2 separate regions of the Homo sapiens genome follow, and region 2 is linked to region 1. The links come from fine-mapping of genetic effects on plasma protein levels. Region 1 holds a variant in brackets. A gene starts in the other region. All regions are shown on their forward strands. Region 1 overlaps MACROD2 (mono-ADP ribosylhydrolase 2). Region 2 holds the start of FLRT2 (fibronectin leucine rich transmembrane protein 2).

The links. PIP is the chance, under the fine-mapping model, that this variant and not a neighbour inherited with it causes the effect. Protein levels are from antibody-based Olink assays in UK Biobank. Linkage for the fine-mapping came from a reference panel and not from the study's own genotypes, which makes the PIPs less certain.
Region 2: FLRT2 starts here. The variant in region 1 is fine-mapped to the plasma level of the FLRT2 protein (UK Biobank, PIP 0.92).

The regions. Positions count from the first base shown.
Region 1 is chr20:14,646,779-14,652,157 of GRCh38, forward strand. All of the region lies in intron 4 of MACROD2 (mono-ADP ribosylhydrolase 2), which reads left to right. Among named protein-coding and RNA genes, the nearest start is that of MACROD2-IT1, 95 kb to the left of the region's middle. The variant T/C (reference allele first, on the strand shown) is at 2,647.
Region 2 is chr14:85,527,748-85,533,126 of GRCh38, forward strand. It overlaps FLRT2 (fibronectin leucine rich transmembrane protein 2), which reads left to right and starts at 2,397. Exons shown (of 2, transcript NM_013231.6): 1 at 2,397-2,787. FLRT2-AS1 (FLRT2 antisense RNA 1) reads right to left here and starts at 3,912. Exons shown (of 2, transcript NR_184170.1): 1 at 870-3,912.

The DNA of each region.
Region 1 (5,379 bases):
TTTTAATACCAGAAAGTAGTTACCTTCCTGTGTTTGAAGGTACTGTATAATTGTATTTCTTTACCATGTCGACTTCCTGTCTCTTAAAACGCAGCAATTACGTGTGTGTTTGTGTGTTTCTTCATCTGCTTCATGCATATAAATATGTGCGGGTGTCTGGGGTTTTGTTGTTAGCTGAGAGGTGGGAAGTGTTTCCACACATCTGAATATTTGCTGCCGACCTTCTTGATGATCCGTCTGTTAATGTTTTTATCAAGCTGGCACACCTCATGTGGGATCTTAATAAAGTAATCAGCATTTTCCCTCTAAAACAAGTTTGAGAAAATCCTAGTTAAACTATTCTCTTCAACACTTGAAGGCCTTGGTTGTACAGCAAGCAGCTACTAATTCAGGAGGATTTATTTGGCTTTTCCTGAGTTCTCTGAAAAATCTATTTGTGTAAAAAGAACATACTGCATGATCCCCAGGGCTCCTGGAACTGAAAACTCAAGGATTTAGACGAAGCTACCCAGTTTGTTTAATCATTTGAAGTTTTGTTTCAGCAGCTCATGCTTTCCTCTTACATTTTGGCAGAGGCAGAAATCTCAGATGATTGTTTTTGGGTACACATGTAAAAATTTTCTCATTAACCTTGGGGGTGGTGTAATGATAAAAGAGATAACATTTTGTTTCAAAAAAATAATACTAACTGAGCACATATTTCAATGCATTGCAAATCTGAAGGAATTGTCATGGCTAACACCATCTCAGTCTCAGTATTTGTGCCCCAGTTTTTTTTCAGGTCAAGAATGTAGGGAAACACTGTACTAAGTTCTCATTGGATCCCTTGATGCCTCATAAGACACCCAGACCCCTAGCTCTCAATTTCATTTCTAAATGTACCCCAGCTACTAGAATCTCTCTCACAATGATGACAAACATCCTCTTTAATAGGACAGATAAATATTCCTGTCACTCTTGACTGAGAGACAATACTCCAGGTCTAGGGGACATGATCTGCAAGGAACTTCCCATGATTCAGGCACCACTATTCCTGTTCATTTTTTTTCCATTGTCCCGGGATTTACAGCTTTCAGGAGTACCTTCATGTTACTCTTCTCATAAGAGGGCAACACCATATTTTTCTCACTGAATCAGAAGACCCAACACCACCTCTTTCCCCAGAGCACTGCCATTTGCATCCTATCCAGCTAGGTAGGGCAAAAGTGTCTTTCATTAGACTAAGGACCTCCACAGGCAGTGCTTAATTTTCATTTACCTTTGCCTCCATAGTGCCTTATATGTAGTGCCTAAATACGGATGGTGGGTGACTGCTTAGAGTAATAATAGCTAATATTTTTGTGACATTAGAAATGGACACAGTGGTAATACAGGTCAGGATTATAACTCAAAATCTTGGCAATGTGATGTTTATTGGAACAAAGGAACCTAAAGATCAGAATGCTTTCTCTATGTAAGATGACTAGGCCTGTAAAGTAGAGTGGGTCACTATTCTACAGAAACACAGATATCAATATTTACATTACAAATAAGATATATTAGGCCATTCATACAATTTACAAAATGGTTCATTATAGGACTCACTAACTGAAAGTACCCAGGTGACATTGAACGTCCAGTTTATTTTCAATATAATCTTCCTGAAATCTCTGTATTAATTTGGAAAAAGTCAACAAAGTAAACCATTCTTAATGTAACAACTGGATTTAAACTAGGGAGGATCAAAATGTTTAGGTAACAGAAACTAGCAGTCCAATGTGGATCTTTCTACTTTCTCTCTTTTTGCCTTTGCCTTTGTCTACGTCTACTTTCTCTCCTTTGCCTCTTCTTTGTTTATTTAAACATATATATATATATATCTATCTATCTCACATACTCAGAGGTTTATTGCTTAGTTTTGTTTTTTATAAAAATGGAGTCATACTATACACACTACTCTGCAACTTATTTAAGAGTATACTATGAATATTCAGTTGGGTCTTATTAAAGATCTAACATCCTTTTTAATTGCTGCTTAATATTTTGTACTTTATACCATTATGTATTTAACCAAGAATGTCTTTATTAAATAATATAATCTTCACCTATGCCAGTTAATCTGTTATTCTTAGTGATTTAAGCTCCTTTCTCTCATCTGGAAAATACAGCAATAAATAGGTAAAATCCACAGTTTCTCCTTCAAGTGCTACGTGCAATAGGCCCATGAGGTAACCCCTGAAATTCATGTTTTCTTGGAAGTAATCAGCAGACCTGGAGTCCTGTGTATGTTTGTGAACTCCAGAGGTCCACACTCCTTCACTTCACACTCAGTGTCCTCCATACTTAGGGCTTCTACCCCCCTGCCCAGTTTTGTTAAAGAAATTACTCCTTGGGACATGGACAAAATAAAAGAAATAGCCATTTGTGTTTCTGTATCCAACACTTCTTTGTCCTGTCATGGGTTCAGTTAGTTCTACCATGAAGTATGGACTGTCTGGTAAGAGGAAAGAGTTTTAGAGATTAATGAGGGTAGCACTAGTGAAACTAGTCTCAAAGATGGCATAGTCAATTTCCTCAGATATAGACCAATACTGATATCTAAAAAGTTTATTCTTATGGGTAGGGATGTCTGGATGATAGCAATTTAAGTCTTCAAGGGAGAGCATC[T/C]CCGTTGCTTATAGGAACAATCATCTGGACTAAGTCATGACCACAGTTCTAACAGGGAAAGTAAGCAAGATCCAGCTCCCGAAGAGGAGTTTGCATTGGCTGCAAAGGGGATCCAAGACCTTAGCTCAGTGAGCCAAGCTTCAGGGAAGGACTGCAGTTCCCTTAGGGACATAGAATGCTAACAAAGAACTGGTTTTGGAGCTTGGTCATGGGGCTGGCCATACATGTTGGGGGCTGGCATGTTTATATGACAAGGTATTTAGGCTTTCCACACCTAAATATTCAGCTATATCTCTGTAAGTGCATAGATCCCTAAAGAGTTTGCCCTGGGTACATTGTGCTGGTTGTCAGATAAGAATACCGAGGCTAATACCAGGGCCCTCCCTTTGTTAGAACTCTACATCTAATAAACACCCAGGCTTGGTTCTCATTGAGTCACAGGCTGGGTGGGGCTGAGCCTACAGGTTGAATATTCTCAGTTCTTGACTCTGGATCCAGGTGGAGTATGCATAGACTGATAACAACTTGTTTTTGCAGTAAGTCTGAAGATTAAAGCCCTTAGTTGAGCCAATACCTTCCTTCTCAGATAAGTCAAATCCACATATTCAGAATGGGAGCAGGAGGCAGAAGGGAAAATTTTGTAACCTCTTAACAGTTCTAGACTTAACACATCCTACTATCAATCTGAGTGGATTTGTTCCAGATGCTTGCATGGCTGAGATATGCAAAAAACTGTCTCCCCATGCTGATTGGTAGCATCTTTACATGGGCAAGTCTTCCTACTTGTAAAGAATGAGTTAGGTGTGTCTGGGACTTACTAAGGAGTCTCAGGTGTTGACAGCTTAAACACCTTGCCATGTAAATATGTCTGATCTCTCTTCCAGTTCTTACACAGTTGGCTGTGGTTACTGACTTCTTATTTTGTTCAGGTCTAAATGAAATTGATCTTGATCTATTACTTTACCCTAGGCTGGAGAAACAACTTTAGTAATTATCTCCTCACCCCTACTTCCCTTTTGAGCTTTGTAAAAATGATTAAGGAGATCAGAATATATGGCATAAATTATCAATGGTTCTTCTCCATTGGAGGTTAGAGTTCCACTGTCAAAAATTAGTAATTATCATTCTTCTTACAAGTTTAAGACTCAAATGGAACTGACTTTTTCAGCCTATTTGTTGTCTATGGTAAACTAACAGCAAACAGCTGGATGTTCTTCTGTGGTTACATAACCTTAATGGAGATTAGTTCCTTTTATCCTTCTATACTGCTTCCCTACCAAATGATTAGATTTTTTGAGGGGCAGATATAAACCCCTTCCATTGTTTAAAAAACATTGTTAATAACCCTTCGCACTACACACCAAAGTGCAGCCTTTAATATAGTTGCCAGAAGCAGTTCTGAGTGAAACACTGAAATGAAAAGTAAACTCATGTCATTTGGTCTATGATAAGCATTCACAGTTTGAAAAACCCCAAACAGGGATAGTTAAGTTGCAAGCACTATTTCCAGAATGAGAGTTGAAAATTATATACATAATGTGGAAACAATAGATCAATGAAAGGGAGTATAGAACAAAAGAGAGAAGAATTTCCATAGCCACTCCATAGAATATTAGGTCTATAGAATGTCAAGAGGGGTTATGTCCAAAACAGGGTTCTAGGATCAGATAAGTTTGGAAGGTACAGAATTAAATGTCATTAAATAGATTTACTTCTTGCAGTATTACTCATTATGCACTGTGAATTTCCAAGACAGGGACAGCGTATGCTGCATTTCCCAAACTTGTATGGTCTGATGAATCCACCGAAGACAGTGCTTTTATAGGGGGACGTCATGATGCCAAAGAGAAAAGAGCTTAAGAAAGGAGTTCAACAGGTCAAGAAGATTAGTGCATAGGAACTTACAGAGGGGAAATTGGTGCCTCCACAGCATTAGTTAGAACTAGACCCTGATATAATAGGGGACCAGAAGAAAGGAGGGCATGAGGAAGAGAGGACTGGGCTGCACATCCTGGCTTTGACTGGAACATATTTCCCAAATCCTTGGTGATCAAAGCCAAAGTAAATACAACCAAGGTTATATAGGAGTAATAAGTGATGGAGGTAGGGAGTCAGCTGGATGAGGCAGAGACTGGAAATCCTTGTTTTGACCTCAAGCCTCAATCCTGAACCATATTGCTATATTGAAATATAGTCAAGAAATGAATGTATCATGCATAGTGGCATGTCAGGAAGTTCAAGTGTGAGAAAGCCACTTTGTTATAGGCCCAATTCCTGGAGGAGGATATATGCCTCTCCAGATCCATTTGGCTTCACTTGTCTCCACAGCTGTGGCAATCAGTTCTGCATGGACTCCAACTATCTTCCTGTGGGGACTGCCGACCAGTGTCTCATCAAATCCCATTCCCACTGCGGATTTCTGTGTTGGTGCTACCTGGGGAACTCAGGCTGAGGCAGTGTCTCACCTAGGTAGCAGCCTCTGTTTCTTGTTTATTTAGAGAGTAATTATGAATTCATAAACTTTCATATTATTACAAATCTTACTGGAGTATCTAGTAGGGGCTTAGTTATATGCTAAACAGTTGTAGTTTGAAAAGCCATAATAACTCTGGTTATTTGACAGATATCAAGGCAGGGCAAAGAGATACCCAACTAGGGTAGGTCATCCCATCAATATTTTGGAAACATATGATTGCCTCACATTGTATATCCTTATCATTGTTTTCTTTTAAT
Region 2 (5,379 bases), not on the chromosome of region 1:
GATTTTTTTAATGTCCATTTTAAAAATGAAGAGGCACCTCAGAGTTGAATTTACCCAAGATCAAAACTGAGCTCAAATCATGATCTTATTATACTGTGTTATTTTTACTTTCACAAAGTATTAGAAAAGAAAGGCCAAGGTACCTATGTGTGTATAGATGGGGAATGATGTAAGAAACACGCGGGTGGGGGATTAAAGTGTTTGAGATGACAATCAATTTCAATTGAAAGGAAAACTATTGAGGACTGAAGTCTTAAGAATAGTGGGCTGACCCTCTGTTTTTTGAAGCTTGCAGATTTGCTTTTTGTTTTTCTTTCACCCACTTCTCTTATGGATCAGTGAGTTTCCTAATAAAAATAAAGTAACCTAATTGTTATAGTTTTCTAAGTCTGCAAAATTATTGCTCTTTGGAGTCCCTGAGCCACATTTCCTATTCGTTTGCTTCCTCTGGCCCCATCATCACACATTTCTAAAGCTGACTCATAGGTCATGTGCATAAGAAATTTGTTACAACGATTCTGCTTGTACTTTGGCGTGATATTTTTTCTTACTTAATTTTCCTTGTCGTGATTACAATAGATGCAACCAATAGCTTTTAATAGGTGGCACATACTCATAACATGGTTTGCTCATGGTTTAGAAACACCAATAATTTAAAGTATGAATTCTGTAAATCTGCAACCACCCCCTCCCCCATTTTCAATCTCATTCATTTTCTAGCAGCATAAATCAGAAAGCAAAACCTTTGTTGCTTTAAAGATCCTGCTTTGCCTTTTTAAAATGTGTTCTTAAAGATGAAATAATTATGCTGCTTTCCTGGATCAAGATTTCAAAGGAAGAACCTCCTGCGGATACTTATGTACACTTACATACGAAAATGGATGTTTAAATGCAGGTAGATGAGTATTTGTCCTAAAATGTGATCTTCCTTGTTGATGCTGGAGCTTGAGGAGCTATCCCTATGCTCTGCTGCCACCTTGGAAACTCAGAAGGATTTACAACGGAGTTCTGCACAGGGGAAGCTGGAAGCAGCATTCCCACAGCCTCTTCTGGGGCTGGCAAGGCTCAGAGAGGCATTTGAAATGGCTATTATTGACACCCATAGACTTGGGTATGTTTCAGAGAGAAACTATAACATCTATCTCATGGGAAAACACACTTTCTCTGTTTTTAAATAACTCCGTTTCAGCAAGATCCATGTGTGTAGCCTCTGAATACTCTATAAAGGCTCCGTATTTCTTTCTTTCTTTCCTTAGTCCGGAATGGAGACAGAAGAAAGATTCGGTTGAAGATGTCCCTGTGTGGATCTCAGTTTGCGCTCTGAGCGACGTCCTGGCTCATTTGGGTGTGACGGTGAGAGCAGAGGCGCTCTGCTGACAGTTTTTTCTTGTCTAAGCTTCCATTCCGCATCCACAATATGACTCGCCTTCCACTCCAGTTAACTTCTTGGAAGTCCAGAGCACTTAGTCAAAGCTGTTTACAAAATGCAAAGCATCTGGGCGGCCAAGGCAGAGGCTCCTGTGTTCTCTATGTAACCGCCTCCAAAAAAGCTGGGAAATTTCGCGGATCAAAATGTAGGCGCTTAAAGCTGACCCTCTGCTGTCAATGTTGGGACTTAGATACATTTTTTGCATCGTCATTCTTGTGTGTGTTTCCCGTTTATTCCATTCTAAGGCTCAGGCTCGCGCTGTTTCTCTCGCGCGCGCTGTCCCCTCTCTCCATTTCCCATTCACACATCAAACTCCGTCCTCCGCACCCCTATCTTCCCGTGTCTTCTTAGTTATGTGAATGTGTGTCATTAGGCTTACTCGGACACTGGATGGGTGAGTGGGAGGCAGCTTTTCTTGCGGTTTCATTTACACTTGGCATGGGTGGGTGGGTGCCCTCCACAATTCGTCTCGCACACGGAACACAGTTAAAATCTGTAGCTAGAACGAGTGAAAAGTTCCGAATCTTTAAAGCGCAGCTAGGACAGGAAATAATACAGGGTTGGGGGATGTGGACGGGGGCGGAGAGCAGAGAAGTAAAGGAATAAAACCAACTTCGCTGGCAACTTCAATAAATCCGGTAACTGGAGGCAAAAAATAGACTCCGAGGGCTGGGTCTGGTCCGGATGAAACGCTAGGGCTCCTTCCCTTCCTTGAATCTTGGGCGCTGGAAGCCAGCCACGGGCGTCTTGCCACGCGAGTGCCCCTAGACAGCAACACACCCACTGGAAACGCACGTGAACAAAGCTCTCGCCCCCGGGAGCCGCTGCCTGCGGTTTCCTAGTCGATCCCAGCTTCTCTAGGGAGTGTCAGGCGCACACAGGGTTAAGTTAGTTCCCTCCCTGGTAGGAGGGAGAGGAGGAGGAGGGGAAAAGCAGCATACTGTCTCAGGCTGGGTACCTTGTAGTTAGTTGTACGTTCGAAACCTGTCGCCGTCACTTGCGCGTTTGGCATTATCCATTGTCACCGCGGAGGAACGAGCGCTCGAGATATCATCAGTGCCCGCAAATCTCCGCGCCAAGGCGCTGAGCTACTCCTTTCCGAGGTGCGCCTCTGGTCCTCCGTCCCTGGTGCCCAGCAGCGGCGAGGCGGCATCTCCGCTCCCGCCGCCGTGTCCACCGAGCCCTGGGATCAGGGTGGCAGTTCTCAACGATGGGCAGGAGGGACCTCGGCGGCGACCCCTAAAACAATACCATGCCCCGGGATCCCCGCTGCTGCCGCGCCAGCGTCTTCCCTTTCCACCTCCCTGACCCTGTCGGATTCGGATGAGCCCATTGCAAGGAGAAGACGCAGCCGTCAGGTAAAAGGGGCTGCGTTGCCAGGTGAAGTTTCCAGTAACCGGCCGAGCTGCTGCTACGCTGGCACCACGCTGTCTCTTCGGGGGATTTTTTTTTTTTGAAAGAGCTGGGGGTGGTCATCTTAAGTGGGGTGCTCTAGGCTTTGTCTTTCACCTGGAGAGAAAATAGGCAGCTTAGCTCTCTCTCGACTTTGGGGACATCTGTCTGCTGGTCGAATCCACCTCCTCTACGGAGCATCATGACTGAGTTCTGGGTCAAAACGCAAATTTTCTTGCCTGGTAGATGCATCGATGCTAAATTGGGGTTCTCAGTGCCCCTAACCTTGTCAGAGTTCAGTCTCCTACTTCCCTAGATTGAATCTCTTAACTTTCACCAGTAACAACCCTCTCCCCTCCACAAGCTGTTGTTAATGTCACCAGCGTTATTATCAGGCTGTTGTATCTAAAGACACCAACCTACTACCTGCCCGTAATCTGGGATCTATTAGCAGTTAAACAGATGCGGTGGATACTAATTCCTTTTCCTTCCAGTTGGTGGGGGCGGGTGGGGCTTTTTCCAAAACCAAGTCCCTTCCAGCCCTGCTTGTCCTCTTCGGGCTGGCGGGCACTGAGCTGGGGCCATCACGCCTTTCTAGAGCGCCTGCGGAGGTGGCGAAGGCTTGGAGAGCATACGAGGCGGAATCCGGATCGAGTGAGTTCCTTGAGCCGCTTGCGTGGGACGCAGGGAGAGGGCGAATAACGCCCTCAGGCGCTGAATGCAGGGGCAAGGAGCCAGCGAGGGTGGCTGGAGCAGGCCTTGCCAGCTGTTACCAAGTCTCTCCACAGGCTTGGGGGCTTGGGGCCTCCTGGAAAGATCCCTCCGCCGCGCTGACCAGTACGGGGCTCGCTCCCGCACTTTGAAGGCTGCCGCGGTCTTTCGTCATTTATAATCAAGCCCAAGATCAAGGTTGCAAGCTGAGGTCGGGGTACTGACAACGGGAATGAAGCCATAGGGGAAGAGGATAACTGGGACGGGCTGGACCCATACTTGATACCCGGGAAACTCCTAGAGCGTGTGGTGCTCCTGCCAGCGGCAGTTACTGGTGGAGCTGAGGCCACCGCTACTGTCGTCGTTGGCGCTTTGCTTCTGGAACCTCCCAGCAAGATGGCACTCACTGTCTGTTCCCTTCCGATTAGCACCCCCAGCCGCGCTCCCTCCTCCCCGGGATACGTATTAGTCACATACTGTGGGGAGAAGATGGGCTATGTAAATGTAAGTCAACGCGCTTTCCCAGCCACCTTTGCATAATGCAACAGGAACAGCGACCCGCGCGCACGAACCGGGTAGTGTGCGCGTGTGTGTGCTCGCGTGTGTGAGCGCGTGTGCCAGCGTGCGTCTCCGCGCGGGCGTGCGTCTGGGTGGATCCTTGCGTGGCTTGGGAGGCAAATCGGGCGTTTCTCCAAGTCGTCTTAACATGATTTAGGCTCTCAAATACGTGAAAGCGGTAGACACAACAGGGATGCGAAGGAAATAAAAAACAATTGGGGAAGTGGTGCCAAGTCACTCAGGCTTTGAACTGAGGACGAGTAGTGCGGTCGCGCCTGGGGCGCGTCCGGAAATCATCCTCAGCCTGTGGCGGCCACTGCCCCACTTAAACTCTTCTGCGGGGAGAGTTGAGCGGATCCCTGGGGGGTTGGTCCTGGGCTAGTTTTAAACTCTCCGGTTGCATCTCGCGTGGCCCCACCGACGGCGCGTCTCGGCGTAGCTCTTGGCGCGGGCTCGTTCTCCCTCTTCTGTTCAGATTCAGCCTCACCGGACTTGTTACAACATGACAGCAACTTACTGGAGGCAGGAAGAGCAGCACGAAATAAGATGAGAAAACCAAAAACATCTCCTCCTTCCTAAATAGAGACGTGCACCTAGCTTTTTTTACTTGTTTGTTTGTTTTTTACATTACCCTTTAACCTTTGGAAAGAGACTGCGAAGTGGAAACGTTGCCTGTACAGAAATCAGGCTTCTTAGCTGTCAAGACTGTTTCCTAATCTTTAGGCTGAATCTTTCTTTGTCCGCTGCAATCTATGGGGAAATTTAACAACGCTCTTGCCAGAAGCAGCCAGGTTGAAGGAAGAAAGTGGGGGTGTTTAAATTAATCCTATTAAATTTTGGATTACTCCCCCAGTTAAAGTCATTTAAGGTGGTCCAGGATGAGGGAACTAGTGATGGGGTGAGGAGTGGGGGGCACATCACCAAGGTTGCCTGCATTTGAAATAACGCCATTTTGGTTGAGAGGTTTGCTGTATTTTACCCTCTAATCTCACATTTCGATCATTTCTCAGTGTCTAAGTAATAGATCCTCCCTCTTGGCAGTACACCATTAAGCAGGTATGGGGAATTCTCCTTTCAGGGTTCAGATGGTGACATTATCCCTAAGGACTGGTGGTAGGAACGGCATGTGCCGGGTAGATAGAGAGAAGGTCAGGGTGGCATCTGCCGGGTTAGCCAGGCGCTCTTCAACTCTTTTCAGAGAGGACAGGGTTAAAAGCCAAGTCTGACTTTGCCTCTTGGAAATCACTGGGTAGCAGCCGCGCCTCCCAAGCATTCTTTAAACCAGAAAA